Homo sapiens: one gene and its partners. The protein of the gene in region 2 interacts with the protein of the main gene of each other region in a pairwise test. Each region holds a gene or a part of one and is shown on either strand. Other genes may lie near its edges.

Region 1 (4,874 bases), on a different chromosome or scaffold from region 2:
GAGGCTGGGAGAACTTCTTGGGGGAAAATAGAGAGTCGTGTTTTGAATGTGTCAAGAATGAGGAGATATCTGCTAGACACCCAGGTACCGAGGGCATCAGGGAGGCAGTGGGGAATGAGTTGAGACTAGAGAGACATTTCGGAGTGGTCTATGCAGAGATACGATGGGAAGCCTGTGACAATGTGATTGCCTCAGAAATGAGATAGATAGGCAGGTCAGCGGGAAGTTCGGGCTGCAGCCCTGGGCACAGCTGAAACAACTAGGGAGAAACCCAGGAAGAGAACCAAGAAAGCAGGAGCCCAAAGCCACATGTTTAGAGGAAGACGATCAGCCATCTCTATACCGTTAGGAGCCTGAGCGAGACTGGGGTTGGCCATTGGATTCACCACACAGAGGTCAGTGGTGCCTGACAAGCAGTGTCAGTGGGGTGCAAGGAGGAGAGTCTGAATGAAAGTTTGAGAGAGCTTGAAGTTATTGGGGAGTAGAAATGAGGGGAGGGTTGGAAGCAGTAAATGGAGACAACTCTTGTGAATTTTCTATTAAGGGGAAGAGAAAAATGGAAGGGAGGTTGCTGGAGAGAGATGACATGGGGATAGGGAGAGTGTTTTTTTGGGGGTTTTTTGTTGTTGTTGTTTGTTTGTTTGTTTGTCTCCCACTGTTGCCAAGGCTGGAGTGTAGTGGCACGATCGTGGCTCACTGTAACCTCCGCCTCCTGGTTTCAAGTGATTCTCCTGCCTCAGCCTCCCAAGTTGCTGGGATTACAGTCACCCACTACCACACCCAGCTAATTTTTATATTTTAGCAGAGACAGGGTTTCGCCATGTTGGCCAGGCTGGTCTTGAACTCCTGACCTCATGCAATCCACCTGCCTCAGCCTCCCAAAGTGTTGGGATTACAGGTGTGAGCCACCGTGCCTGGCCAGGGAGAGTGTTTTGAAGATGGGGGATGTTGGCCAGGCGCGGTGGCTCATGCTTGTAATCCCAGCACTTTGGGAGGCTGAGGTGGGTGGATCACTTGAGGTCAGGAATTCGAGACCAGCCTGGTCAAAGTGGTCTCTACTAAAAATACAAAATACGAAAAATACAAAAATTAGCTGGGTATGGTGGTGGGAGCCTGTAATCCCACCTACTTGGGAGGCTGAGGCAGGAGAATTGCTTGAACCCGGGAGGTGGAGGTTGCTGTGAGCCAAGATCACACCACTGCACTCCAGCTTGGGTGACAGATGGGGGATGTTGGCCAGGTGCAGTGGCTCACGCCTATAATCCCAGCACTTTGGGAGGCCGAAGTGGGAGGATCACTTGAGTCCATGAGTTCAAGATCAGCCTGGGCAACATAGTGAGACCTCTGTATAACCTGATGGACCACAGTAGAAAATAAAATTAGCTGGGCATGGTGGTATGCACCTGTAATTCCAACTACTTTGGAGGCTGAAGTGGGAAGATTACTTGAGCCCAGGAGGTCAAGGCTGCATTGAGCCATGATTGTGTCATTGCACTCCAGCCTGGGCAACAAAGCCAGACCTTGTCTCTTTAAAAAACAAAAACAAAAATGGTACGGATGATGGTGCATGTTCTGAGCCGGAGGGAATGATCCAGCAAGCACAGAGAGATGGATGATGTGTTGGAGATGGTGAGCCACCACAGGAGTCAAGTGGATGGGGCAGGAGGGGAGAGTTCAGGTCCAGGCCCACATGGACAGGAGCTAGGGCTGCTCATTCTGGTAGGGACAGGTGAGATGTGGGTACTGAGGGGAAAGACGGGTTTCTGCAAGATTACTTCTGTATTCTCTATGAAGCACAAGGCCAGCTGACAAGGTAGGTAGGTTTCAAAGACAGAGAAGGTGGACATTATTACTACTCTAAGGGAGAGTGACACAGCAGAGAAAAGCAGTGGGAGGCTCAGGCAGTGCTGTGTGTCCGTTTGAGGTTTGCGGTGGTGAATGACATTCAGGCCTGCACATGGCTCTGCATTTGTCTATAGCTTAGACGCTGGTGTTTGATGTGCAGGCACCTCAGTATGACTCCCAGGGCTGGGACTTAGCAGGGTGTGCTGCCTAAAGGAGGTTTTGGTATTATTTCTCTAATTAAAGGTAAAAAGAGAAATGAGGGATGTTGAGGGAAGCAGACATCAGGTCAGTGGACTGGGGGTCTCTGTGAGAACAAGCTGTCAAGTCATAAGGGCTGGCCGGGCGTGGTGGTTCACGCCTGTAATCCCAGCACTTTGGGAGGCCGAGGTGGGTGGATCACTTGAAGTCTGGAGTTTGAAACCAGCCTGGCCAACATGGCGAAACCCCGTCTCTTCTTAAAAAAAATACAAAAATTAGCCAGGCATTTTGGCACATGCCTGTAATCCCAGCTATTTGGGAGGCTGAGGCAGGAGAATCACTTGAATCCAGGAGTCAGAGGTTGCAGTGAGCCAAGATCATGCCACTGCACTCCAGCCTGGGTGACAGCACGAGACCCTGTCTCAAAAAAAAAAATGATATATATATATATATATCATATATATATATATATATGATATATATATATAGATCATAAGGGCTGTTGGAACTGGTTCAGCCAGAGGTGTTGGGAGTATAGGTTGGAGGAGAGGCTGTTGGAGATGAATTTGGGGCATATGTAGGAGGTAGGATGGCCAGGTCTTAGACATGGCTTGGATATGAGGTATGTGGGAGACAAGAAGCAAAGAGGACACCATATTTCAGGCCTGTGCTTTTGAATCGGCAACAGTGCTCTTTCTAAAGGTAAGAACATGAGAAAACCTTCAACTCTGGGAGGATGGGAAAGATCATGAGTTTGGTGGTAGATATGTGGATTTGAGGTCTGTCACATGTGCAGGAGATGTCAAGTGGGCAGTTGAATATTCTTGTCTGGAGCTCACAGGGGAGTTCTAGGTAAGAGGTATGAGAGTGGTTCACTATTTGAAGCTGTGAATGTGCACGAGGTCTTCCAGGGTAAGAGAGGATAGGGTGAGAAGCAGAGGGCCTCTGACTGATAGACAGAGGCACCTTGAGAGACCCAGCTTCAAAGGATGGGCAGGACTTCCCTGGGCAGGCCACATACTTGGGGCTGTCTGTGGCTGGGATGATTCGTTTATTCGCTTACTCAAAAACTATTGAAGACCAATTCTGTGCCAGGTATATTGTGGGTGCTGGGGATGCAGCCCTGATGTTCAGGTCCACAGCCCTGGGGTCTGTGGGACAGTGGGGTCCTGTCCCTGTCCAGTGGTGGTTGCAGTACCTCCCTGGGGTCCCTGAGCTGGCCTGCTCTTCCCACAGCTGCGCATGGAGTACCTCTCCCTGATGCATGCTATAGTCCGCACCACACCCTACCTGCAGCACCGCCACCGGCTACCCGACCTGCAGGCCATACTGCGACGCATCCTGAATGAGGAGGAGACCTCACCCCAGTGCCAGATGGACCGCATGATTGTCCGAGAGATGTGCAAGGAATTCCTGGTGCTGGGGGAGGCTCCCAGCTAGCACCTTGCTGTCCTCCCTTCCCTGCAGCTCCAGTCAGTGTGCAGGGGACTCAGGGGCTTGGCCCTAAGAATGTTTTGCACTGACAGTGGGAGGGGATAAGGTGGCAGAAGGAACCTGAGCAGGACCCCCACCTGAAGTAGAACTTAAGAGAGGGGCCAAGTGTAGGATTGGGGACCATGGTCTGGGAGCTGTTCTGGGGCAGGGGGAATATGCAAGCTAAAGCCCCTCTATACCCTGGTAGGCTTCCTCTTCAGCATGCCCCCCTCTTCACCCCACACCCATGTGTACACTCAGAGTCCTGCTGCCGCTCCAGGCTGGACCAGACCCCCATCCCCACCCCTCCTGGTCTGTATCCTGGGCCTCAGCAAGCCATGCCCCTGGGGTGAGGGGAGGCATCTCCCACCAGCTCTATTCTTTGCCTTAGCTTTGCAGTGAGTGCTGCTCATGTCCTCCCCTCCACCCGCACATGGGGGTCGCTGCCCTTCACTCCTACCCCCAGAGGCCTTGGCCAAGCTGCTGCTTTGAAAGCGGGATCTTGGAGACAGGCCATCCATCCTGGAGCCTCATGGAACAGGATGATGGCACTGAGAAAGCCAATGACCGAATCTCTTTTCTCTGTAAAAATGTAGACTGAAAAGCCATGTGTATTTTCCTATGTGCTGTAGCTCTCCTTTGGAAATAAATCACAGGCATCTGGAAACAGGCTTCCCTGTATGATCTTGGGAGACAGTGGGAGAGGATGGGCAGAAGTACTGGGGCCTCAGGACCCCATCACTGCAGCTTGCACTGACTTCTCCAGCCTGAGGAGGTGATGGACCCTGACAGGCCTGGCCTTCAAGGCCCTTTGAGCCCTGTTCTAGCCTCTCTTCCCTGAGCTCCACTTTTCCTGAGCCCCAGCCATAGCCAAGTGCCCCTCAGCAGCCCATTCGCAGGTGTCTGCATCTCCAGGCTTCACTTACACACTTACATCTTTCTTTTTCTCCTTTTTTTTTTTTTTGAGACAGTCTCACTCTGTTACCCAGGCTCACTGTAGCCTTGACCTCCCAGGCTCAAGTGATCCTCCTGCCTCAGCCTCCTGAGTAGCTGAAACTACAGTAGCCACCATGCCCAGCTAATTTAATTTTTTTTTTTTTTTTTGGTAGAGACAGGGTCCTACTATGTTGCTCAAGCAGGTCTCAAACACCTCAGTTCCGGTGATCCTCCTGCCTTGGCCTCCCAAAGTACGGGGATTATAGGCGTGACCCATCGCACCGGCCCGCTTACATCTTTCACTTACATCTTTTGCTTTGCTTTGAATACCGCTACTCTCTCCCCTGTTGAAACCCTATTGTCCTTCATAGTTGTTCTCAAATGAAGCAGGCCCCTACCTACCCCCAGCCCTGGCCTCTGAA
Region 2 (7,825 bases):
TAAAGTATCAACAGAGGGTCAGACTCCAGAACTTCTCTTGGTTGTGCATTCCAGCATTGTATTGGCCTAATGAATTAGTTTCCCAAAGCCACAGCTGTGATTTAATAACAGCAGAATGTAGGCAAAGCAGGAGTCCTCTGAATAGGCAAGTGCCCTTTTCCTCACTTCCATCTTAGGAGGGGATGTCACACCAGGTGGTTTAGAAGAAGCAGTGATGGGCTGGGCACAGTGGCTCATGCCTGTAATCCCAGCACTTTGGGAGGCCCAAGCAGATGGATCACTTGAGGTCAGAAGTTCGAGACCAGCCTGGCCGACATGGCAAAACCCTGTCTCTAGTAAAAATACAAAAATTAGCTGGGTGTGGTGGTGCGTGTCTGTAATTCTAGCTACTTGGAAGACTGAGGTTTGAGAATCACTTGAGCCCAGGAGGCAGAGGTTGCAATGAGCCGTGATCGTGCCACTGCACTCCAGCCTGGTTGACAGAGTGAGATTCTGTCTCAAAAAAGAAAAAAAAAAAAAAGCAGCAGCAGCAGTGATGACACAGGAGAAGCAGTCAGGGGGTAGCCTGATGAGAAAGTCTTGCTTTCACAGTTTTTTCTCTGTCTTATCTCTTCCGCATCTTATTCCCTTTTGATAATAGAAGGTCCAATGCATGTCATTCCACATCTGTGTTCCTGTTTTCAACTTTTCCCTATTAAAAAAAAAAAGGAGGAGAATGAAAAACCTTGTATAACCAAATTATTTACTATTAGTTAATTTAGAGTGATGAGATTGGAAAGGGGCATGAAGATTATCTTTTTCTCTTTATACAATTCTGAATTGTTTGACTTATTACAAATAGATATGTTACTTTTGTAAATAACCAAACAAGAAAAGAAATGGCTATGATAGCCTAGTTTTAATGAGTTACAAAGCAGATGACTTCACCTGTACTGAAGAAATGTGTGCTTGGCTGTACAGGGATGTACATGTTACCTCTACTACAGCCCCACCCAATTTAGGCCCCTTCTGCTCTGCAGCCCCACTCTGCAGTGCACACAAGGAAGGAAGACTGCATTTAGAGTCAGATTAAAACAAGCCCTGAGCACTGGCTGGAGTGTCAGTTCCCCAAGAATATTCACCCATCCCCAGAGGCTGGCAGATAGTATTAGAGTTGCTCAGTCTTTGTGGAAAGAGTGAATTACTGTTGCAAAACAGAAATGACTTTTCTTCCAAATAGTCATCCAAACTTCCAAGCAAATCACCGTAAGATAGTATGATGCTCATTATTCGAGTATTCAGACATAACAATTGTTGCACATGGCAATATGCAATTACTTTTGGAAACTTCTGGTAGCTTAGCAAGATAAGGGGTGAGCTACTCTGTTACTTGTTTATTTCCGAGTGTCCACTTGTGAGTCCTCACATGCCCTGTCTCAAAAACAAAAGTTAACAAGGAGCTTCTTGCCAGTGGTGTCTGCTGCTCTTTCCTTACTAGAGTGTTATATATCTGACCTACCGTTTGTGGACTAGCCTGGGAACTAATTATCATTTATAACATTACATCTTTGAATAAAAGAGTACCAAGTATCAAACAACCAACTTATAAACAAATATTATGAATATAACAGCCTTGCAATTTAATAACTTTTTACAGTTTTGAATATTAGAGACCCATCACTTTGATGGATTTATTTGCCCTTCAGTTATTACCAAGTGATTCTGAAAAGTCCAGGGGTTACTAATAAGTGCTGATTTGACTGCTCCTCCCTGCCAGGCTAGTATGGAGGAGAAAGACTTTTCACTCTTGAAGGAACACACCATGCTCTTCTCCGTACATCTTTGCACTCTCTGGTTTTGGTTTTATGTTTACAAATGCCTGTGATATGGGGGGAAAAAGAATCTTTGTTTAAGAAAAAAAATCAGCCATGTGCTAATCAGGTGATAGAAGAGAAAGAGATCTAAGGCGGCACTGATCTAAGCCAGAGGTGGGACATTTAGGATAAAGTTAAAAGCAGAACATGGGCTGGGCACAGTGGCTCACATCTGTAATCCCAGCACTATGAGAGGCCGAGGCAGGCGGATCATGAAGTCAGGAGATCGAGACCACCCTGGCTAACACAGTGAAACCCCATCTCTACTAAAAATACAAAAAATTAGCCTGGCGTGGTGGCATGCGCCTGTAGTCCCAGCTACTTCGGAGGCTGAGGCAGGAGAATCGCTTGAACCTGGGAGACGGAGGTTGCAGTGAGCCGAGATCGCTCCACTGCACTCCAGCCTCAAAAAAAAAAAAAAAAAAAAAAAAGCAGAATATGAAAGACTAAGTACAGTTCAAATGCAGTGGTGACTTTGATTTATAGCAAGAACAAGTTTTCCATTTGCTCTATATGGAAACGTAAAGAGATTTTGAAACTGCTTTAACAAGGGCTGCCACAAGAATTTCTTTTATTGACTTGAAAAATTACTCCTACATTCATGATGTCACAAAATCGTATGTATTTTTCAGTCATGGTTTCATGCATTTTTATTCTATAAACATACATTATAAGTATACAAATATAGATTATATTCTATAAATAATTCAAGGATTTATAACATATCTAAAGATACATTCCTTATAAATATCAGGGATTTTTCTGTATAAATTACTTGTTTGTTTATTATTATTATTATTATTTTGAGATGGAGTCTAGCTTTGTCACCAGGCTGGAGTGCAGTGGCGTGATCTCGGCTCACTGCAACCTCCGCCTCCCGGGTTCAAGTGATTCTCCTGCCTCAGCCTCCCGAGTAGCTGGGATTACAGGCACACACTGCCACGCCCAGCTAGATTTTGTATTTTTAGTACAGACGGGGTTTCACCATGTTGGCCAGGATGGTCTGACCTCGTGATCTACCCACCTCAGCCTCCCAAAAGTGCTGGGATTACAGGCGTGAGCCACCCCACCTGGCCTATAAACTATTTATTTATTAGCACTGTGCTAGTGGTTTAAAAAGAAAACAAAAACAGATATGGTCCCCGCCTTGCAGAGCTTGCTGCCTAATTGTCTGGTCACCGAGTGGCCTGACTTCATGGATGGCTGCTGCGGAGTAGCAGTTGAGGAGCGAAGAGGTCTTACAGAACACCCACAGGCCGCATCCAGAAGCCTCACTCATTCTCCCTGATCTCAGAATGTCCTTTTCTTTTCAGCTATGCCTCCAACAAAGCAAGTAAAGCTGCTTCCGTCCTTCTGTATTCTCTGTGGGCACACACGGAACTGCATCATGCCTACAAGAAGGTAAGAACATGAACAAGGAATGTGTCATAGTTAACAGAGCCAGGTAATAATGGCCCACTTGACTTGACCCTGGGAAGAAATCGCTAAAAAACTGCATTTTCTTGTGTGCCAGTTTTGTTACCTTTCACGTTTCTGTTTGCTTATTCCAAAGGCTCAGTTTAAGAAGACAGATTTTGTCAACAGCCGGACTGCCAAAGCCTACCACTCCCTTAAAGACTGAGGAAAATGACAAAGTATTCTCGGCTGCAAAAATCCCCAAAGGAAAACACCTATTTTTCTACTACCCAGCCCAAGAAACCTCAAAAGCATGCCTTGTTTCTATCCTTCTCTATTTCCGTGGTCCCCTGAATCCAGAAAACAAATAGAACATAATTTTATGAGTCTTCCAGAAGACCTTTGCAAGTTTGCCACCAGTAGATACCGGCCACAGGCTCGACAAATAGTGGTCTTTGTTATTAGGGCTTATGGTACATGGCTTCCTGGAATCAAAATGTGAATTCATGTGGAAGGGACATTAATCCAATAAATAAGGAAAGAAGCTGTTGCATTACTGGGATTTTAAAAGTTTGATTTACATTTATATTCCTTTTCTGGTTCCCATGTTTTGTCACTCATGTGCACATTGCTTCGCCATTGGGCCTCCAGTGTATTGTTCTGCAGTGTTGAAACAGAATGGAAATGACAAGAAATATCTGCAGTTATCCAGGAGAAAGTATAATGGCAAAATTATTGGTTTCTTTCTTTACTTTGTGCTTGTTTTTATCCCCTTGGGTTGTTTTTCTCTGATTTTTAAATAAACTTAAGAAATTTAGATTACAGAGTATGCATGACTGTAAGAAAAAGAAATTGAGAGGAAGTGATCATAGCAAATTAAAGAAGTCTTTTCCTCCCAGAACTTAAAGTAAAATAAAAAATAAATAAATAAATAAAATCTTTTCCACAGAGAAAGGCAACTGTGATGATAAAATTTAACGTTCCCCCAAACACTGAGTCAATGAGATTTTTCTCAGGAGATACTTTACCTATAACAACGCCGTTAAATCCAAATCTCTTCTAAACGATGGCATTCTATGTAATGCCTTTCCTGGACTTTTTTGGCCACTGCCCTGGACTAGTGAAAGAATGGACTCTATCTTTATCTGCAAGAGGAACTAAGGCCTTCTCTCAGACTGCCTGGCCAGCCTGGGGCACTGAAAATACGGCTCATGTTAATGAGTTACATTATCAGCCAGCCCAGCCTTGCCCACCATTTAAGAAATATCACAGAGCCACTAGATCTCATATGATCTTCTTCAAGCCATTATTTTAACTCAAGAAAACTCTAGAGAAGAAAAGTGAAGAAGTCATGTTGAAGAAGATGTAAGAATGTGTCAAGACCATCCAGAAATGATATGAGAAATACTGATATTTTAAATGGTTGACATCATCCAGCGAAATGAATCTACATTAAATGTTGTTTTAACTGCGCTATGATTAAAACCATTCATATAGAGTTAGTCTTTACAACTACTATTCTGTTATTTTTTTTTTTAATCTGACAACATTTGTCCTAAGTAAGATAAGCAAAAAAATTCTTCAACTCCTTTTGGCAAGAAAACTGTAACAGAAAATAAATTTTGAATGTGTACTTAAGTCTTTATTATATTTGAAGCAATTTTTTTTCAATTTTAAAAGCTGAATGAAGACAACTTAGGTTGCTAACCTAGTTCAAAATGAAATTATTTAGATACCAATTTTTAAAATACTGGAGAGAATTTATATGTCTTTTTCCAGAGTTCTGATGATAAGCATTTGGAGTGCATTTATTCCTCCAGATAATAAATGTGTGTTCAGAACTTTTTGTGTTTTTTAAGGCATTAATAAAGCCTTCGATAATATTAAATACAAAATGAGACCAAAGTAGTGTTGCTTGCATTGGCGTCTGTGTATATCTGGTTTATTTGTGTATCTTGGAATATATGGTATGATTGACATAAAATTTGAGGATTTAACCTTATAAACTTCAATTACTAAGGGTTTGATACTTTGTAATTAGTTATATTTTCCCCTTAATTAAAATCCTAAATTTTTACCAAGAGACATTTCCTGTGAGAATGGTGGGACTAGATGGTGACCTGACCATAAAAATGAAGACACATGCAGACGTGTTAGCTGCGGTTAGATTTTAGTATATTATTGGGTGATTCTGTGACTGTGAAAAGACAGACTACGTTTGATTTCCATGTGCTGCTTTGTTCACTCTGTTTGCAAACACCTCACTACTTTACAATTTGTGAACACCTCTCAGGGAGGTTCTTCTGTGAATGAACAGTTTTGATCACAGGTCTATACATAAATGTGTTTGTTTTCCTATGTGTCCCAGACAGGGCCCATGCCTTCAGAGAAACTAATGGGCAAAGCTGGGCCTTTTTGTTTATTTGTTCCAAAGGGCTGCTCTCTGTCAAGAATTCTTAATGGTCTTCTGGAATGAAGGGGGTTGCTGCCCTAGATTTCCATCACTGGAAACGTTTGTGTAGATCTGATGGCAATAACCAAAGGGTTATCTGATAAAATAGAGAGGGGATTAACATGTCAAGTGGGAGAATAAGCAGCAGGACTAGATAAACCACTATAAAACCAATTTAATCACCTTCTGAAGAAGCAATTTCTTAGAAGAAAACAGGAGATGGGAGATATATATATATATACACACACACACACATACGTTTATATATAGACACCTACATATATATATATATGTGTGTGTATGTGTATGTGTGCCTATATACTATAGTTATAAAATGAGATTTCCCCTAAATAAAATGTCTAATGAACTTACTGCTTTGGAATAAGGAGGACTTCAGTATGTGTGTACATTGAACAAAATTGCAGAAGAAGCCTCAAATCACAGAATCTCAGGATTAAGAGGGAATTTAGAAGGCATTTGGTCAAATCCTCCTCAAAGTATCATCTTGCATGAAAAAGATTCAGTTCTTATTAATGTGACAGAAAAGAAAAACATACAGTCATACACTCAACTAATGCTCAACATGACCATATAACTGGCTCTTTTCAAGACTCACTGTTGGATTAAAGTATTTCTTGTGGGAGGGAAAATAGATAAGGGAGCAAACTTTTCAAAATAAAATTCTGCTTTAAGTTTCATGTTTTAGTTTATAGTGATACTGACAGTTTCATCACTTATGAAGTAAATGTTAACCTTTGAAGGACTATAAGAAAAACTCTTTGTGATATGATGTTCAGGAAAGAGCTCAAAAATCCCAAGCATTGGCATAAGAATTGTTGAAAATATGAGCAGAAGGGAAAGTGCCCTGAAGGCCCTAGTCTGGGAGACTCAGTGAAAGGATCCAGCAGTCCTTAGCCTGAGAAGGGTGCTGTGTCACCTCTCTGTACATATTTGAAAGCCCACTGTAGAGAAGATGATAGGCTTGTTCTGGCATAACACAGAGGATGAAACCAGGATCAATAGGGGGAGGCTGTTATGAGACTAGCTTTGATAGGGTAATAGTGGACATATATTGAGTACTTCTCACAGCCTCATGAAATCATCCTTTTCTTTTTCTTTTTCTTTTTTTTCTTTTTTTTTTTTTTTTTTTTTTTTTGAGACAGAGTCTCGCTCTGTGGCCCAGGCTTGAGTGTAGTGGTGCCATCTCGGCTCACTGCAAGCTCCGCCCCCCAGGTTCAAGCAATTCTCCTGCCTCGGCCTCCCAAGTAGCTGGGACTACAGGCGCATGCTACCACGCCCGGGTAATTTTTTCTGTTTTTAGTAGAGACAAGGTTTCATCTCGTCTTGATCTCCTGATCTCGTGATCCACCCCACTCAGGCTCCCAAAGTGCTGGGATTACAGGTGTGTGCCACCACACCCGGCCTACTTGTTAACATTTTAAGAAGCATGAGAAAGAAAACCTCGAAGCAGACAGAGGTTAAGTCATAGCTGGAAAGTACAGAGGGGCTTTGTGAACCTAGATGGTTTGGCTCCTCTCTGGGAGTCCCCTGTGAACCAAGAATGAACAATCCATGTCTCCGTGCTGGTGAACAGTGGAGGTCTCTTTGGCTTTGCTATCTTTAGAGAGTAAAGAGTTCAGTATGACATCATGGTTAAGAGGGCTCATTCTAGAACAGCCAGTCTGCGCTCAAATTGTGGTTTCTCCACTTATTAGCTGAGGCACATCTCTTATTCTCACTGAGCCTCAGCTTTCCTTATCTGTAATGTGTGAGTGACAGTAGGATTTACCTCATTGGGTTGTTTTGAGGGTTAACTGTGTTAATAAATACAAAGCATTTGAAACAGTGCCTAATAGTATCTACTCAATAAATGCTGATACGGTTTGGCTGTGTGTCCCCACCCAAATCTCATCTCAAATTATAATCCCCACATGTTGAGGGAGGGACCAGGTGGGAGGTGATTGGATCATATTGGATCATAAGGGTGGTTTCCCTCATCCTGTTCTGCTGATAGTGAGTTCTCATGAGATCTGATGGTTTTATAAGGCAGTTTTCCCTGCTCTTACTTGCTCTCTCTCGCCTGCCACCATGTAAGACATGCCTCTTCCCCTTCCACCATGATTGT
Region 3 (9,302 bases), on a different chromosome or scaffold from region 2:
AGCCTGGCAGAGAATCAAGGAGGCCCTCGACACCATTGAGAACTGAAATGAGCCAGTTGGGGAGGCATCATCAGCCTTTCACCAGTCCGGGAGAGACGAGACCAAAAACTTAAGCTGCAAGCAGCTAGCGACCAGACAGACAGGCATTACCATGGAGACCAGAGATGCCAGGGAAGACTAAGGGATGTGAGAAACCCTTCACTTGACTGCTCTGTGGTCCTAGAGTCAGCTCTTTCTGCCTACATTCAACTGCCATCTTGGAGAAGAGAGCGTGGTGAGGAAAAACCTGAGATACTGGGAAATTTACCTTTAGGCTGTTTCAGTTACTGCATCAGACTAAAATTTCAGGATTGGATTGAATTTATTTATTTTCTTATTTGACCCTTTGTGGGTGGGGTAGACCAAGAAGATCCAAATTAACTACAGATAAAATTTTAAAGGTATATTTTCCCCCAAAAACGTCTCCAAATGTGGTGTGAAAAAAATCTGTAACCCTATGAGAATTTAATAAAATATGTTCATTTTTTATCTTCCTGTTTGTGATTTTCCCCAGTCCTGACTGACAACTCATAGGCCTCTGCTGCTTACTTTCCTTTCCTCCTCAGAGGATAGTGATTTATTCAGTAATAAATGCTATAAAGGACAATGAAGAAAGTGCCACAAATGTCCTCTTGTTTACTTCTCTCTAAAGAAATGATTATGATGAAGGCTGTAGGGGAATCTATAGGAAATTTGGACTACAATATTTCCACTAAATTTTCTCAGAAACAAACCTGTCAAATATGTATTCCAAGCATATTTGAGAAGAACAAGATTATGTTTAGATATGCTGAATGATTCAGACTACCTTTTCATACCATTTGGTTTTGGCAGAGGCAATTATTTTCTCAATAATTTTCAAACTTGTATGTATCTCAGGGATTCTTTTAAAAAAACACGTTTTTGATTCATTTTAAGTTATTTTAACAATGTTTAGCAATGTAAGTCCACATATAAGATACCCAAGCTTTAAATATCTATACATATAAGCTGATTTCAGCATCTTTGGCTTCAAAACAGTAAAATTGCATTTCCAATATCAAACAAGTCAAATTTGGAAAAGGCATAAATCTGTATGAACATCCTGCATCCATGGAGATGTCATGACTAAATTCAGAAATAGCCTCATCTCTCTTTTTTTTTGCTTTCTTATGTCTGAGTTCTGCATCCAATTCTGTTTATTACATAGTTTTCGATAAGATTGTACCCCTTTTAAACAGTGTCTATTGATATATATTCTAGGTGTCTGGAAGTCTTTTTCTACAGTCGGCTCTTGGTTGTCTCTGGGAATATGAATGGAAGGAGCGGAGTGAAAATAAATCTGAGGGCAATATTCATAAATAATCCAAGAGCTACACTGTAGTCAACTCTCCCCAGAGCCTGACCACAGTGTTTCCCTCTCTCCTCCTCCCAACCCCTGCCACTGCCTGACGAGCACAGAAATGACCTTGCTTTAGAGAGGAGAAGGACAAGAGGAGAAGAGGCATGTTTATCATCAGCCCTGCAGAGTTGACCGCGTGTATAGATGCACTGCCCTTCCAGGCCCAGAGGGAGATTTCCCCTTCAGGAACAAAAAACAGTCAAGCTAACTTACAACTCCCAGAGCGCTGCAAGCAAGGGCTAAAAACTTCAGCCACTCGATCTCCTCCGTGAAGCGACCCACATTCATCACACTATTAAACAGATCTGTTGGGAGATTCACCACTTTCCACATCTGGGCCAGCTCCTCTGCACGGATGATCAGTCTGCCAGCAACCTGCAGGGCAGGGGACAGACACAACACAGAGGTTGTGGGAGAAGTTGAGACAAGGCCCTGAGAAACACCCTGTCCCCAGGCCAGGTCCACATCTCCCAGCACATGGCAAGGGGCGGGAGGGGGTGTTAGGAAGGTAAAGATGGCTCTGTGTGGCAGTTATCTTTGCAAATCCTAGTGAAGAGCATGCTGAAATATAATTTATTAATTCTCAAACTTTAGGTGTCAGAATTATGCAAAAGATATACATTTATATTACATTTTAATTTCTGGTGATGCTTTTATCTGCTATTGTATTCCTAAATTGTTTTATTCCTTATATGACAGATAGAAGAGCCTGAAAACAAAACCAAGGGGTAGAGGGCTTACCTGAGACCACTAATGAATGGTAAAATTAGAACAAGACATAGGTCTGTTTCTTCCCGATTGCACTGAGTTCTTAGCTCTAGACCTCAAGTGCATCCCTCATGCTTTCCCAGGAATGATATGGGGTATGTGGCTGACCTGTGGGGATTTGGTCTGGATGCCTAATGTTGCTTGATCCCAGGTATTTTAGAGCTCTGTCATGTTCACTGCACAAGGTACTTGGTGGATAAAAGGAGGGAAGGTGACTGGTTGTTGGCCACCAATGCAACAAGAGCACAGATGCCCGATGAAGTGCTCCAACACCTTTCCTGACTGTCTGATTCTAGTGAAATGCTAAGCCTCTGGGACCAAGGTGGTTAGCCAAGCCAGTCCTAAATCACCCCAAACCGCTCTGTCCTGGACCATAAAGCAGGGTTTGGTGGTGCTCAACCATATGTCCTGGGAATTTGCCAAACCACAAACTTTCTCAAGCTGCACCTTCCTCATGCATTCATTCACCAGGCAGCTCCCAGGATGATGTGGCTATGAAGAGGCTCACAGCCTCTCCCTAAAAGCTAAAAGCAATGTCTGGACCTTGGATAGCTGGGGAGCTAAAATATGCCCTTCCCCAAACTGTGATTTTCATCATATTACAGTCTTGATCAGTAAGGAGACACTGTCCAGTGACTGAGGACTTGCACTTTTCTGGAGAGACGAGATTAGCATTGCATTGAGCCCCTGTACATTCTGCCAGCTTCAAGGAAATCTGGGATGACCCCACCAATGACTCAGCCTACAGCCTATTTCAAAATTATTCCCATTTGCCAAGGAAAGATTTACTTTCAGTCCACGGTTTAGTGTATTTTAGGGTGGTGCTAAGTGGTCAGCTGACTGTCAGGAGAACAGAGGGCTTTTTGTCTGTACCCACCCAGCCTCAACACTGTCCCTACATTCTCCTCAATGCTGCAGCAGGGCCCTTACCTGAGAATGCAGGATCTTTAACAGCTCAGGTGTTAGCTCTGCCCGGTTACACAAAGCGACTCGCTCAGACCGCTCTCTCACCGGAGGCGTCTCTCCACGGGACAGGGCCTCAAAATAACTACAAGAAAAAAAGTCAGAGAGTAGGAGGATCCTATACACCAGTGGCCTCTGGCTGTTCTAGCAATCCTTCCACCTTCTTCTGAGGGAAGGAGGTAGAGAAAGGAACCTTTGTTAAGTGGCTTCTATGTGTCATTGTGTTTAGTTCACTTACATATGGGAAAAGTCTGAATGTGTTACTCTCCACTTAGGGCATAGAGAATGCTTAGAGAATACAAAGCTTTGTTCTTCTCTAAGGATGAGGAAGAACCAAGAAAAGTTTGGGTATGCAATTCCCTGGAGCATATTGGGTTCAGGTTTCTTTTTCAGTCATCTCTGAGTGTTTTATACACGCAGATGTATATTACATATGTATATATAATATTGGGAAGAGAAGTTGGAAGAGAACTAAAAAGTAATGTACGTAAGAAAGGGGAAGGCAGCACAGGAATGGTGGCTAGGGCCTGTAATCTGGTGACTCCAGGCTGGAGGACCACTTAAGCCCAGGAGTTTGAGGCTGCAGTGAACTATAATTGTGCCACTACACTCCAGACTGGGTGACAGAGTGAGACCCCCATCTCTGAAGAAACAAAAAAGGAGGGAAGGGGAAGAGATGGAAGTGTCCTGGGGTGAATCAGGAAGGGTTTCTGGCTGGAGGTAGTGAGGCTTGGGGCTTCAAGAGGGAAGGGAGAGAGCATTGGCAGGGCAGCCTGCAAGGCTCAGGAGAGAAGAGAAGCCGAAGAAGGTTTGAGACAATCTTAAGCTATATGGTGCCTCTGAAATGAAACTGTTTCTCCATCTTCCCTCAAAATTTTCAGTGAAATCTGCCTGCTCCTCAATGTTTTGTGGAGTGGACTTCGTTTGGGGGCATTGTGGAACAAGTACTGAGTTCTGTTTCAGGACTGGCATAAGATGAAAAGAGGCTGCCTGCAGCAGGGAATGGACATGAGCCGCTGACATGTGGGTCACCAATGCAGCATGGCAGGGTCTGTCTCCATCAAAAGCCTGGTTATTGACGATCCATGAACCACAAATTTCTGTCCCGCCCTGCTTTTTTCCCTCCATTACTTCCTCCAGATCCAGGTAGTATGAAAATAATATAGAGGGAATTTTGTAAAAGTCCATTTCAGGGTCAAGCCATACAATGATGGGCTAACCATTGCCTGTCTCTGAGCCACGTAGCAAGGCAGAGCGAAAGCTACATGGACTAAAGCAGTAATTGCCAGTCACCCCTTGGAGGTCATCAGCAGGAAGGGCACCTTTAACAATGTGCATGAGAAATCTCTGCACACAGATCAGTGTTGGGGTGGGCGGGGTGTGGGTGCAATATGACAATAGGAGCAGGGTGTGGCCTCAGGCTTTATAAACCAGACTTGGGTGGTATAAATGGGAGGGACAGAGACACACAGCACCTCATTCCACAGAAGTGCTGCCCAGGTAGAGTAACACTCATCACCAACATCTCTGGACTTCTTGTGGAATTGGTTAGACAACATGGAAGCAAAGCTGTAATCATGGATTTCGTTCTTTGGGTTATTGAGCTTCATTTGCAAGTGATCAGGTCCATGGTTATACACATATATTGCAAATTTGTGTTGTAACACATGCCTACCAGAGGACAAATAAGTATATGTCCTGCCGATGCCTGGTAAGAGGTTTCTTCATTGACAACACATATGTAGGGAAATTCTTACTTGCAATGGATTAAAAACGTATTTTGTCTTGGAAACACTTTGCAGAGTTTTATTCTCTAAAATGCTACAGGTTTTAAGTAAGTCACATACAACCATCTGAGCAGTGCTTTTCATGTCTGGATAGAATGGAGGGGGCTCTTAGGTCATGCCCTCCTTTTTCATTGTGGTTAAACTACAAACTAAGTTTTCATGGATGTCTAAAAAAATTATAGCACGTGATACAATACGAGAGCAAGCAGTCTACAATAGTGGAATGCCTCTTCCATAAATGTCAGGGACAATACTAAGCAATGTCAGTTTGCTTACTATAAAACGGCAGCACAAGAACAATCAAATGGGTTTGAAACTAACGTATAAGATAAAGTCTGTCTATCTGACTATGCCAAAATAAATTAGTCTTCTGAAGCTAAAGTTCAATCTTAGAGGCAATATATAAAATTTAAAATGGAGAACTAAACAGGGCTCATTACTAGGCAAAGCAACCCCCATTTATGTTTCTTTTTATGAGCACCACTGGCTTATTTTCCTTCCAATTGTAAAAGCTACATCCTAATCCAGTCCAGGAGCACAGCACTGGCCCAGAGACTCCGAAAGGCCCCTCTTAGATGCCATTTTGTGTCTTCTCAAAGGTGTCCACACTCTCCCCACCATCTGCCCAGGACACCCACTCACAACCTCAGCCTGAGGACATCTTCCCTTCCCCAACTCACTGGCTTTCTCTCAACGGCCTCTCTCACTCTCACTTTCCCACTGAAACCCTCCTAAGCAGGGAATCATCAAACAGTAAAAATAGCCTGAAAATGGTCCGTGAGGTCTAGTTATCTTCCAACTCCTGTCTCAAGTCCTGGTTCCCCAGTTTCAAGCAGGCAAGTTTGTCCAAGGAGCAATTTCATAGCTGAGAGGCTTTCTGTGCAAAGCTACTTCAATCCAGGCCCGCAGCGATTGTTGTGTAAGCTCCATCTACTGAGCAGCCTCTGGAGGTCTCTCCTGAAAGAAGGCACCCGTGTTTGAGGCACACTGTTTTCAGCCATGCCTGAGGACCCCATCACTCTGCTTGGCCTTTCCCCAGAATGCAGTGTGTACTGTGCGGACATCTTTATGTTGGCAGAACAAAATCAGTTCAGAGAAACACTAAAGAAAATAACAATAATTTCCTCCAAGACAAGATATAAAGGGTCTTTGGTTGGGTCCAAGTATGAGTTTTAACAGCAGGGGAGGAAGTGTCTCCTTAAAGGAGTGAACTAGCAGGACTGGTCCCACCCCATCCACCCAGGGCTGTCGCTTCCCTCCCCCGGCTGCACTGCTGCCATCTAGTGGTGAGACAGGAGAACGAAGAAAGGCAGATTAAGCTTCGGAGATTCCCAGCCCTTCTTTCCACCGGGAGTGGGAAAAGGCGTGCAGGGAGGAGGTGGGTGTGCATACGCTGGTGTGACGCGGTCATCTAACTTGCTGCTTGCCCCAGGACACGGCCTATTGACCTGGCGTCCTACTGCTCAATCTGGCTCCCTTAGGGGAGGCATCCCATCCTTGCCCAGCTAGATGTAGCATTTATGTGTGGATTTTAAAGCATCAAAGCAATGCAAGAGCTAAAACAAAGACGATGCCAGTTAGTCCGGACTTCCTAGCTGCAGCCATGACAACCTCCGCGGTTTTACAGGACCCTCTGTCTCCGGCCGTCCTCCAAGGGGTGAAGGCGAGAAAGGAGCACGTACTCGGCTGCCCACTGGATGAGGTCCTGCGGCTGCACCCTAATGGCGGCTTTGGCAAACTCCTTCAGCATCTTCGGCAGCTCCGGCGGGATGCATGTTGGCTTATCTGTCTGAGCCATTGATTGGTTGGCCTATTCTCAGGAGAAAAAAATACGTTAAGATGAAAACTTCGATTCATACGATGAGAGCAATCCTGGACAGGAGGTCACCCAGCCTCTGTTTGACACTCAATTTTGGGGACTCTGCAAGACAAATGCATTCTATTATTACACAACGCCAAGGTTAGAAAACCATCTGCTAACCCCTACTTTTTGTTGGAAATAGTTATGTCCTTTACATAAAAATTACACAGCCCTTGTTCATTTAAAAAGTGGAGGTCAGCAAAAAATTCCCTAATGATATCGCCCCAAAATAATGATATCACCCCCCAAAATCCAGAATTTTTCAGTATATATATGTTTGTAAAATAAAAAAATAAGATTATACAAAACAGCTTATTTACTCAAAAGTATATCATGAACATCTTTCCATGTCGTCCAGCACTTATTAGTTGGGTAAGAATTGTAGCAAAATTTACTCTGAACCCTCTGTGAATTGACATTAGGCCATTTCCACATAAAAATAGTCATTAAACAGCCATTTGGTGAGCGTCTCTCTTTACAGCTGCATGTTCTTTTCCACTCTAATTGTCAGGTGGAAAATTCGTACATTTTCTCTCAAAAAGTTCCAGGACAAATTGAAACAAAATATGAAAATCCATAAAGTGTATACAATTCCCTCCACAAATAAACAACAGATCAAAAGATTTTTTTCTGCTTTTAGTAGAGAAAGGGACAGACTAGATATGCTAAAAAGCTGTCCCTCTTCAAAACACCTAGAGGCCAGACAAATCTCAGTACAAGCCTTTCACATTGCCTTGCTGGGCTTGCAGTGAAGTGAGAGAAATCTTCCAGTGGCCAATGAGGTGAGTAAAGGGGAACCCGCAGTGCTGGGCAAATGAAGAAACTAGGGCTCACCTGGGCACATGTAGATGGCAGGAACTTGCAGCTTTGAGATAAATTGCTAGGCAGGGTGGATAGAGACCAAGGATTAGGCTCACAAAAGGCAAATGTCTGGACTAAAGGACTCCCCTTCTGACCTAAACTTGAGACCCGCCCAGGGACTACACCCTCAGCGTGAAAAGGTGTGGCTGAAAATATCCGCCTACAGGCAGGGGTAAGCAACAAAGAAACCTGTCTCCATTGCTGCTTCTAGTCAGGAGAGAAACAGTCCCCCAGGAGTTGGTAGCCACAGACTAGTTCTAAGTTTTCAATTTATGCCAACACCAGCATGGCTGGGAAATCCCAAGACAAGAAACTAAAGTGGTCTTAGGTTGGTGGGACTTCATGACCTTTTACTTTATTTATGTTCTTTTATTTGGAGGAAAAAGAGGATAAAATAATGATTAATTTTAGACTTTGCAAAGTGTTAGAAAAGTTATAACAGTAATGTAACCACTAAATCTGTAGAGAGGAAAAAAGGAATTTTTTAAAAACACAAACAAGCAAACAAACAAAACCCTTCATCAGTCAAAAAGAAGGCAAGAAAGGAGGGGTAAAAACAGGAAAAGTAGACAAATAACATGGTAGAAAATAATGCATACATATCAGTAATCACAATAAAAATAAATGGGCTTAAATGTGCCAGTTAAAATACAGGTATAGGTACACCTGAAAAAATGAAGACACAGAAAGACTCAAGGTGAAAAGAGTATAAATAAGCAAAGAATAACCAATAAAAGTTAAGGTAGACATACTCATGCCAGACAAAAGATACTTTAAGGCAAAATGCACTATTAGGAAAAAAGAGTGACGAAAGCTTCAATTGTTTTTGATAAAATGATAAAAAGCTTCAATTGTTAAGACAATAACAACAATTCTCAATGAGTATGCCACAGACATCACCATGGAGGAGTCTCACCATGCTAGGTGGAAAAGCAATATATTGTTTCTGGTGACATATATATGTTATAATATTATAATAAAGAGTAAGGAATGATAAATACAAATTCAGAATGGTGGTTACCCCTGGTGGAGGAGGGAGAGGATGGAGAGGGATGTTATTAGGGAAATACAACAAGGGTCTCAGTACTATTAGTAATGCTCTATGTTTTAAGCTGGATGGTTGCTGTCTAGATGCTTGTTTCATTATTTTTATACTTCTACTTACATCATGTATTTAATTTTGTCAGTATGAAATATTTCATCATTTAAAAAGTTACTCTTATAAGTTGTTTCTGATGACTTTTCAACCCATTTTATCTATCAAAGAGCAGTGCCTTATTTGCTCATGTTGTCTGCACATATATATATTCTTTTACTGTGTTAAAAATACATACAATTTACCATTTTAAATGTACAGTTCAGTGTCATTAAGTACATTCACATTGTTGTGCCACAATCACCACCAGCCATCTCCAGAACTTTTTCATCTTCACTAGCTGAAACTCTGTACCCATTAAGTACTAACTCCCTATTCTCCTTCCCCACAGCTCCTGGCAACCACCATTCTTCTATCTTCATGAATTTGACTATCATATAAAATCATATGGCATATAATATTTGTCCCTTTGTGTGTGGTTTATTTCGCTTAGCACAATGTCTTCAGGTTCATTCATGTGGTAGCATGTGTCAGAATTTCCTTTTT
Region 4 (9,302 bases), on a different chromosome or scaffold from region 2:
CAACTTCCAGAGGAGCCTGAGGTCTTGGATTGCATCTCTGAGGTTGGGAGTAGGAAGAGGAAAATGGTTTTTGGTGTCCTCATACTTGGTATGCTCTTGGTATTCTCTGACTCTGCCACTTAAAAGATGTGTGAATTTGAACTTGTTTAACATCTCTGTGCCTCAATGTCCTTATTTGTAAAGTGGGAGGGCACCTATATCATAGGGTCATTATGGGAATTAAGTGAATTGTAAAGTACATGGACAAATGCTATGTAGGTTTCAGCAAATACTGCTCTGATTCTCTGCTTCTCTGCCCCTTCTCTTCCTCTGTTCAGCTCTGCAGCCAGATGGAACAGCTGGAGCAAGAGAACCAGCAACTGAAGGAGGGGGCTGCAGGAGCAGGGGTTGCCCAAGCTGGGCCCCTCGTGGATGGGGAGCTGCTGAGGCTACAGGCTGAAAACACAGCCTTGCAGAAGAACGTGGCAGGTGCATAGAGGCCCTCCTGGGGATGCGGAGACATTGGGGCTTGAGTAGGGCAAGGAAGGCCGTCATCCTCTCAGGGGAAGGAGAAGGGCTTCAGAAATAGGGTTGGCCCATGCCCTGTGTGGCTTTGGACAAGCCATTTCACCTCTCTGAGCCAAAGCCTTATCATCTACACAGTGCATGTAGTGATGTCTGTCACCCAGAAGATTGTAGTAGAGATAAAAGGTGATATCATTCTGCATTAGTTCAGTGTCTGGTACCTAGCAGATGTTACAGATTAGCAGCTTGAATGTCAAAAAGGAGATATTTGCGGCCGGGCGCGGTGGCTCACGCCTGTAATCCCAGCACTTTGGGAGGCTGAGGCGGGCGGATTGCGAGGTCAGCAGATCAAGACCATCCTGGCTAACATGGTGAAACCCCGTCTCTACTAGAAATACAGAAAATTGGCCGGGCACGGTGGCGGGCGCCTGTAGTCCCAGCTACTCTGGAGGCTGAGGCAGGAGAATGGTGTGAACCTGGGAGGTGGAGCTTGCAGTGAGCCGAGATCACACCACTGCACTCCAGCCTGGGCGACAGAGCGAGACTCCATCTCAAAAAAAAAAAGGAGATATTTGCTAAGTGAAAAAGTGAATGGAGTGTTGGGAAGATTCTGAGCCCAGATTGTAAGTGGGGTCTGGGATGAAAGCTGAAAGAAAGCTTGATAGAGTGTGGGAGCATGTGGTGTGTGGAACTTTGGAGAGCAGCTGGGACTTCTGTGGTGATGGATGCTGGTTCCATGACCAGGAGGGAGACTTAGTAGAATGTGAGTAGGAATTAGGAGGCTCTAGGAGGGATTCAGCTGTAAGTCAGTGGTAGCATATGGTGGGCATGGCCTTCAAGGGCTATGGGTGGGGCTTCAAGGATTGAGAATGGGATTTGTGAAACCAGCTTGGGCTAATTTAATAGTAAACAGAATCTTAGTGGTTGATAGGGCTTAAAATATTTGTGAGAGCCTGGGCACAGTGGCTCATACCTTGATTCCAGCACTCTGGGAGGCTGAGGCAGAAGGATCTCTTGAGGCTAGGAGTTTAAGACCAGCCTAGGCAACATAGCAGGAACTTGTGTGTACTAAAAATAAAATAATTAGGCCAGGCACGGTGTTTCACACCTGTAATCCTAGCACTTTGGGAGGCCAAGGTGGGCAGATCGCCTGAGGTCAGGAGTTCAAGACCAGCCTGGCCAACATGGCAAAACCCCATTTCTATTAAAAATACAATAATTAGCCAGGTTTGATGGCAAATGCCTGTAATTCCAGCTACTTGGGAGGCTGAGGCAGGAGAATCACTTGAACCTGGGAGGCAGAGGTTGCAGTGAGCCGAGATCACACCACTGTACTCCAGCCTGGGTGACAGAGAAAGACTCAGTCTCAAGAAAATAAACAAATAAATAAATAATAAAATAAAATTAACTGGGCATGGTGTGCACTTGTAGTCCCAGCTACTTGGGAGGATCGCTTGAGCCCAGGAGTTTGAGGTTGCAGTGAGCTATGATTGCACCACTGCACACCAGCCTGGGCAACAGAGCAAGACTGTCTAGGGAAAAAGATTTTTTTGAGACGGAGTCTCACTCTGTCACCCAGGCTGGAGTGCAATGGCTCGATCGCGGCTCACTGCAACCTCTGCCTCCTGGGTTCAAGCGATTCTCCTGCCTCAGCCCCACGAGTAGCTGGGATTACAAGCGCGTGCGCCACCACGCCCAGCTAATTTTTGTATTTTTAGTAGAGACGGGGTTTCACCATATTGGTCAGGCTGGTCTTGAACTCCTGACCTCATGATCCACCTGCCTTGGCCTCCCAAAGTGCTGGGATACAGGCGTGAGCCACCGTGCCCAGCCACGGAAAAAGATTTTTGGGGGAGGCTGAGGTGGGAGGATTGCTTGAGCTCAGGAGTTCAAGACCAGTCTGGGCAATGTAGCGAGACCTTGTCTCTACAAAAAAATCAAAAAATTAGCCCGGCATGATGGCACACACCTCTGATCCCAGCTACTTGGGAGAGTGAGGTGGGAGAATCACTTGAGCCCAGGAGGTCAAGGTTGCAGTGAACTGTGATCATTCCAGTGCACTCCAGCCTGGGTGACAGAGCAAGTCCCTGTCTCAAAAAAAAAAAGAAAAAAATGTGAGAGGCATGGATAGAGCTGAACCTTCGTCTTTTAGGCATGTGGTCATTTGGCACAGGGACTCTGCCACCTGAGGGGTTGAAGGCCAGTTCTCCCTCTATTCGAGGCATGGCAAGGGACTTCAGAGACCACCTCATCCATCATATATCCCTGTTCTACTCACCAGCCCTGCAGGAACGCTATGGGAAAGAAGCCGGGAAGTTCTCAGCTGTCAGTGAGGGCCAGGGGGATCCCCCAGGGGGCCTGGCCCCCACCGTCCTGGCCCCCATGCCGTTGGCAGAGGTGGAGCTGAAATGGGAAATGGAGAAAGAGGAGAAGAGATTGCTCTGGGAACAGCTGCAAGGCTTAGAGGTGAATCTGAGTCTGTTGGAGCTGGAATGCCAGAAGGCAGGGCAGATGTTCTACCTCTGTCTATAGTCCCACGGAGATGGCTGTGACATCACCATCTTGTGGGCTGATGGGGTGAGGGAGGCAGGAGGGCAGGGGAAGGCTTCTCCTTGTCCTTGCTAACAACAACCCTCCCATCCCTCATCCTTCCCTGCAGAGCTCAAAGCAGGCCGAAACATCCAGGCTGCAGGAGGAACTTGCTAAGGTGCGGCTGCTTGGCTCTTTCCCATTCTGCTCCCAATCTGCTGGATTCTTTCCCATTCCATTCCCAATCCTAGGGCAGAAGGGGCATTGTACCCCATCAAAGCCTAGGTTTCATCATCTGTGAAATGGAGAGACTCACACCTATGTCTCAGAGTTACTTTCAGTATGGAATGAGTTAATGTGGTCCCACTATATCTTGTGCATGATAAGTTTCATCCCATCCATCTCTCAGCTTTGCCCATTCACTCATTCATTCATTCATGCAAGCATTTACAGACTCCTGGCTCTTATCTTAGGACCTGGAGACCCAGGGGTGCGGCACCCAGTCATGATATCCTGCTTTCCAGGCCTCCCAGCCTAGCCAATCTATAACATGGCCATTGGCCACTATGTTGGGAGCATAAATACCGGGCTTTGGAACCTGAAGGATCTGGGTGGAGATAATATTGTTGTTGCTGACCCGCTGAGCAACCAAATTACTTAACCTTTCCAAGACTCTGTTTCCCCATTTGTAAAACTGGTACTACTCACTTGTCAGGGCTATTTTGAGGATTCCACAAGACAACATAAGTAAATCCTGGCTTCCAAAAATGACTTAATAAGAAGTGTCTATATTTATTAATTTTAGGTTTGTCTTTATATTATTCTCAATGTTATCACTTGTCTGTACCTCTCTCCCCAGCTCTCCGAGAAACTGAAAAAGAAACAAGAAAGGTAAATTTCTTTTTCCCAAGGGTACTGGGGGCCGAGGGGGGAATTAACTTACGGAACTGACCCATCTACATCTGTCCTTCTGTGCCCAGTTTTTGCCGTCTGCAGACAGAAAAGGAGACTCTGTTTAATGACAGCAGGTAACTGCCAGATTTGCGGGTATTGGTGGACAATTGGGACAGTGCCCAGTGAAGATTACAGGGGCAGAGCTAGGAGACTGGGCCTCAAGCCATGTCCAACACACCCCCTCCCCATCACTCCTAGGAACAAGATTGAGGAATTACAACAACGGAAGGAAGCTGATCACAAAGCCCAGTTGGCTCGAACCCAGAAGCTGCAGCAGGAACTTGAGGCTGCCAATCAGGTGATGGGGACTGGGTTCTGAGATCCCTGGGGTAGGGGCCAGGACTGGGAGCCTGGAGAGGTCTGAGGTCCATGGAGGCTGGCTGGGGAGTCTGAGATTTCCTGTGTTGGAAATGGGTTCTGGGGCCCCCCAGGAGCTAGGAAAATGGGAATTGGAGAGCCCTAGGAATTGTTATAGGAGTCTTCATGAGTGTAAGATCTCAGGGGGCTAAGGACTTAGGGGGCTGTGTGCTATAAGTTTGTGTAAATCTGAAACTCCTGGAGGTTTGAGACCACAGTCTGGATGAATCTGTGGTCACTAGGGCCTAGGACCAGGAACTGGGGTAAGTCTGAACTCCCTGGGTGCTGGGTGACTTTGAAATCTTTAGGGGCTGGGATGTCAGTAAATTTGGGACTCCCAAGGGCTGAGGACATGGCTGGGTAGATATACAACTTTCAAGGGTGAGATAGTTGGGGCTGAAGGCTGAGTGCATTTGAGATCCTCAGGATCTGGGCGCTGGCTTGGGCCTAAGACACCTAGGAAGTGGGATCATATGGGCTAGGTAGTCCTGAGATCCTTGAGGGCTGTGAACAAAAAGCTGGTCAGTCTGAGACCTCCAGGGGCTGGAGCAGAAGTTTAGGTGGGTCTGAGGCTCCTGAGGACTGGGGGCTGGATGGTTCTGAAGCCTCTGGGTTTCCTTCTAGAAAAGGTGAGTCTGAGGTCCCTTGGAATGGAGGATATGGTGGCTTGTGGTTCTGAAGTCCCTAGAAACTGGGAACATGGGGTCTGAGACGGGAGTCTGGGTAAAGCTGAGACCCCCAGGAACTGGTGGTTAACTGGGTCTGAAGATTCCAAGAGACTGGGGAGCAGAGTGACAGGTGAAGGGGTCAGTCTGAGAGTTCACCAGGACCTGGAAACTAGGAGGTTGTGAGTTTGAGACCTCTAGGATCTGGGACTATGAGTTTGGGTGGATCTCACCTGGGAAGTAGGGACGTGGGAGATGAGTGTGTCTGAAACCCCTGGTGGTTGGGATTGGGAGGCTGGGTGAAACTGTCATCCTTGGGTGCTGACTACATCTGAGATCCATGGGGCTGACTGTGTCTGAGAATCCTGGAGCTCCCAAGCTAGAATCTGGGTGAGCATGAGACTTCTTATGGATGGGAGCTGAGTGAGTTTGAACCGCGTAGCAGCTAGGGCCAGGAGTCTAGTCGTGCCTGAGATCTTGTACGCTGGGATAGAGGGGTTGACTGTGTCTGAGGCCCCTGAGGGTAGTGACCTGGCGTCTGGGTGAACCTGAGATTGCTGTTGGCTGGATAGTCTGAGACCCACAGGTGCTGAGAACATGCTGCTGGGTGGTCAAACAGAGAGTCTGTACGGTTATATGCACCCCAGGAGAGGCTGAGGTGTAAAATGGGCTCCCCTGGTCTCCACAGAGCTTGGCAGAGCTGAGAGATCAGCGGCAGGGGGAGCGCCTGGAACATGCAGCAGCTTTGCGGGCCCTACAAGATCAGGTATATTGTACTGCGTGGGCTCAGGGAGCTGGGGTTCAGGATGGGGGCAGCCTGAGTGGGTACTACATAGTCAGGCAAGGTCCCAGGGATCCTGCTTCCCCCAGGCCTTCGTGTGTGTGTGTGTGTGTGTGTGTGTGTGTGTGTGTGTGTGTGTGTGTGTGTGTGTCCTTTCTTTCTTGGTCGTGGGTAGGTCCTGTCCCCCTGTTCTGGACCCACTCTCACCTGCTGTGGACGTGGGGCCAGGTATCCATCCAGAGTGCAGATGCACAGGAACAAGTGGAAGGGCTTTTGGCTGAGAACAATGCCTTGAGGACTAGCCTGGCTGCCCTGGAGCAGGTAAAGAACACCTGGGGGCCCTTGCTGATCCCTCTCCAGTTCCCCCATCTCCATCTGCTTCTGGTCCACATCAGGGTAGGGTGGTCTGGACCCCATGCTGTTCTCCTGTCTTTGTTTCTGTTGCTCCTTTCTGTTGGCGTCCAGCCCTCTTCTCTCTGGCCATCCATCCCTACTTTTTTTTTTTTTTAACTTTTAAAAATTTTATTGGGGAGGCTGAGGCAGGAGAATTGCTTGAACCAGGACCCAGGAGGCAGAGGTTTCAGTGAGCCGAGATCGCACCACTGTACTCCAGCCTGGGCGACAGAGCAATACTCTGTCTCAAAAAAAAAAAAAAAAAAAAAAGGGCGTGGTGGCTCATGCCTGTAATCCTAGCACTTTGGGAGGCCAAAGATGTGTGGATGGCCTGAGCTCAGTTCAAGACCAGCCTGGGCAACACGGTGAAACCCCATCTCTACTAAAATACAAAAAATTAGCTGGGTGTGGCGGTGTGTGCCTGTAATCCCAGCTACTCGGGAGGCTGAGACAGGAGAATCTCTTGAACCCAGGAGGCGGAGGTTGCAGTAAGCCGAGATCGTGCCATTGCACTCCAGCCTGGGCAACAGAGCGAGACTCCGTCTAAAAAAAAAAAAAAAAAAAAAGCCGGGCATGGTGGCTCAATTCTGTAATCCTAGCACTTTGGGAGGCCGAGGAGGGCGGATCACCTGAGGTCAGGAGTTCGAGACCAGCCTGACCAACATAGAGAAACCCCGTCTCTACTAAAAATACAAAATTAGCTGGGTGTGGTGGTGGGCACCTGTAATCCAAGCTACTCGGGAGGCTGAGGTGGGAGAATTGCTTGAGCCCAGGAGGTGGAGTGTGCGGTGAGCCGAGATCGTGCCATTGCACTCAAGCCTGGGCAACAAGAGTGAAACTCTGTCTCAAAAAAACAAAAAACAAAACGAAAAAAAACTTATTGGCCGGGCATGATGGCTCACACCTGTAATCCCAGCACTTTGGGAGGCAGAGGTGGGCGGATCACCTGACATCAGGAGTTTGAGACCAGCCTAGCCAACATGGCAAAACCTTGTCTCTACTAAAAATACAAAAATTAGGCCAGGCGCAGTGGCTCACGCCTATAATCCCAGCACTTTGGAAGGCTGAGACGGGCGGATCACCTGGGGTTCGGAGTTCGAGACCAGCCTGGCCAATATGGTGAAACCCCGTCTCTACTAAAAATACAAAAAAAAATAGCTGGGCATGGTGGCGCACACCTGTAATCCCAGCTACTCGGGAGGCTGAGGCAGGAGAATTGCTTGAACCTGGGAGGTGGAGGTTATAGTGAGCCGAGATTGTGCCACTGCACCCCAGCCTGGGTGACAGAGTGAGACTCCATCTCAAAAAAGAGAAAACAAAATTATTTTGTAGAGACAGGGTCTCACTATGTTACCCAGACTGGCTTAAACTTCTGGCCTCAAGCTATCTTCCCACCTCGGCCTTCCAAAGTGCTGGGATTATAGGTGTGAGCCACTGTGCTTGGCCTATCTCTGCTTTTTTTTTTTTTTGTAGACGGAGTTTCGGTCTTGTTGTCCAGGCTGGAGTGCTATGGCACGATCTCGGCTCACTGCAACCTCCGCCTCCCAGGTTCAAGCGATTCTCCTGCCTCAGCCCTCCCAAATAGCTGGGACTACAGCCGTGTGCCACCATGCCCAGCTAATTTTTGTATTTTTAGTAGAGACGGGGTTTCACCATCTTGGCCAGGCTGGTCTCGAACTCCTGACCTCATGATCCACCCGCCTCGGCCTCCCAGAGTGCTGGGATTACAGGCATGAGCCACCGCGCCCGGCTTCTGCTTTTCTTTGTTTCTAGTTTCTCTCTAGTAAAGTGCATGAAATGTACTAATCTTAAGTGTACACTCAGTGAATCCTCTCTTCGTCTCTCTCTTTTTTTTCTCTCTCTCTCCCCGCCACCATAGCCACCACCCAGATCAAAGTATAAAGCACTTTTAGTACCCCAGAAGGTCCCCTTTACCCCTTCAAAGTCAGTACTCCCCCAGAAGTAACCATTATTCTGATCTCTAGCAACATAAGATTCATTTCGCTTGTTCTTTAACTTCATATAAATGGAATCAGCTGCTCTTTGTCTCTGACTTCTTTCTGGCAGCACTATGTAAGTTTATCCACGTGGCAGCACAGATCTGTTCTCTTACTGTTGTGTGGTATTCCATTGTATGAACATACCACATTTACCCATTCTCTTCATTGTTTTTCTGTTTGAAATTTCCTCTCTCTTCCTGGTTCTCTTCCCACCTCCCTCCCTGTTTCCCTGGAACTAGGGGGCTCATACCCTGTCCCTGGCCCCTGGGGTCCCTTTCACTCTACTTCTCATCACCACTACTTTCTCCAGATCCAAACAGCAAAGACCCAAGAACTGAATATGCTCCGGGAACAGACCACTGGGCTGGCAGCTGAGTTGCAGCAGCAGCAGGCTGAGTACGAGGACCTTATGGGACAGAAAGATGACCTCAACTCCCAGCTCCAGGTAACACCTTTGGCTCTGGCCTGTCTCTTCCTAGTTCCCTAGTAATGGCCCAGTGAAGTCCCCAGTAAGGTGGAGTGGGAAGACTGGAGTCAGGAGGACCTAGGTTCCAGTCTGGCTCCCTAACTTATTAGCACCTGTGTGTTCTGGGACAAGTCATTTCACTTCTCTGAAACTGAGCCTCTTCAGTTAGTTAGGATATCAATTCTTTTTCATTTTTTAAATTTTAATTTAATTTAATTTTTTTTTGAGATGGAGTCTTGCTCTGTCACCTAGTCTGGAGTGCAGTGGCGTGATCTCGGCTCACTGCAAGCTCCGCCTCCCGTGTTCTCGCCATTCTCCTGCCTCAGCCTCCCGAGTAGCTGGGACTATAGGCGCCTGCCACCATGCCCAGCTAATTTTTTGTATTTTTAGTAGAGACGGGGTTTCACCGTGTTAACCAGGATGGTTTCGATCTCCTGACCTCGTGATCTGCCCGCCTCGGCCTCCCGAAGTGCTGGTATTACAGGCGTGAGCCACCACGCCCGGCTCCTTTTTTTTTTTTTTTTTTTTTTTTGAGATGGAGTCTCACTCTGTTGCCCAGGCTGGAGTGCAGTAGCGCGATCTCAGCTCACTGCAACCTCCGCCTCCTGGGTTCAAGCGATTCTCCTGCCTCAGCCTCCGGAGTAGCTGGGATT

What was found.
Region 1: the proteins of PKP2 (region 2) and NCKIPSD interact in binary tests that used the Homo sapiens proteins (3 or more experiments, as listed by UniProt).
Region 3: the proteins of PKP2 (region 2) and ROPN1 interact in binary tests that used the Homo sapiens proteins (3 or more experiments, as listed by UniProt).
Region 4: the proteins of PKP2 (region 2) and GRIPAP1 interact in binary tests that used the Homo sapiens proteins (3 or more experiments, as listed by UniProt).

The regions. Positions count from the first base shown.
Region 1 is NC_000003.12:48,673,153-48,678,026, reverse strand, and holds the end of NCKIPSD (NCK-interacting protein with SH3 domain), read left to right. Parts: intron 1-3,279; coding exon 3,280-3,483; 3' UTR 3,484-4,183; downstream 4,184-4,874. UniProt on the Homo sapiens protein: Has an important role in stress fiber formation induced by active diaphanous protein homolog 1 (DRF1). Induces microspike formation, in vivo. In vitro, stimulates N-WASP-induced ARP2/3 complex activation in the absence of CDC42.
Region 2 is NC_000012.12:32,788,073-32,795,897, reverse strand, and holds the end of PKP2 (plakophilin-2), read left to right. Parts: intron 1-3,166; coding exon 3,167-3,254; intron 3,255-3,405; coding exon 3,406-3,474; coding exon of another isoform or gene 3,475-3,619; 3' UTR 3,620-5,143; downstream 5,144-7,825. UniProt on the Homo sapiens protein: A component of desmosome cell-cell junctions which are required for positive regulation of cellular adhesion.
Region 3 is NC_000003.12:123,973,746-123,983,047, forward strand, and holds part of ROPN1 (ropporin-1A), read right to left. Parts: intron 7,680-9,302; exon of another isoform or gene 7,634-7,679; intron 6,860-7,633; exon of another isoform or gene 6,749-6,859; 5' UTR 6,737-6,748; coding exon 6,621-6,736; exon of another isoform or gene 4,930-6,620; intron 3,237-4,929; coding exon 3,119-3,236; intron 1,796-3,118; coding exon 1,634-1,795; intron 1-1,633. UniProt on the Homo sapiens protein: Important for male fertility. With ROPN1L, involved in fibrous sheath integrity and sperm motility, plays a role in PKA-dependent signaling processes required for spermatozoa capacitation.
Region 4 is NC_000023.11:48,984,594-48,993,895, reverse strand, and holds part of GRIPAP1 (GRIP1-associated protein 1), read left to right. Parts: intron 1-317; coding exon 318-468; intron 469-2,785; coding exon 2,786-2,970; intron 2,971-3,163; coding exon 3,164-3,211; intron 3,212-3,892; coding exon 3,893-3,924; intron 3,925-4,013; coding exon 4,014-4,061; intron 4,062-4,185; coding exon 4,186-4,285; intron 4,286-5,697; coding exon 5,698-5,775; intron 5,776-6,018; coding exon 6,019-6,111; intron 6,112-8,493; coding exon 8,494-8,628; intron 8,629-9,302. UniProt on the Homo sapiens protein: Regulates the endosomal recycling back to the neuronal plasma membrane, possibly by connecting early and late recycling endosomal domains and promoting segregation of recycling endosomes from early endosomal membranes.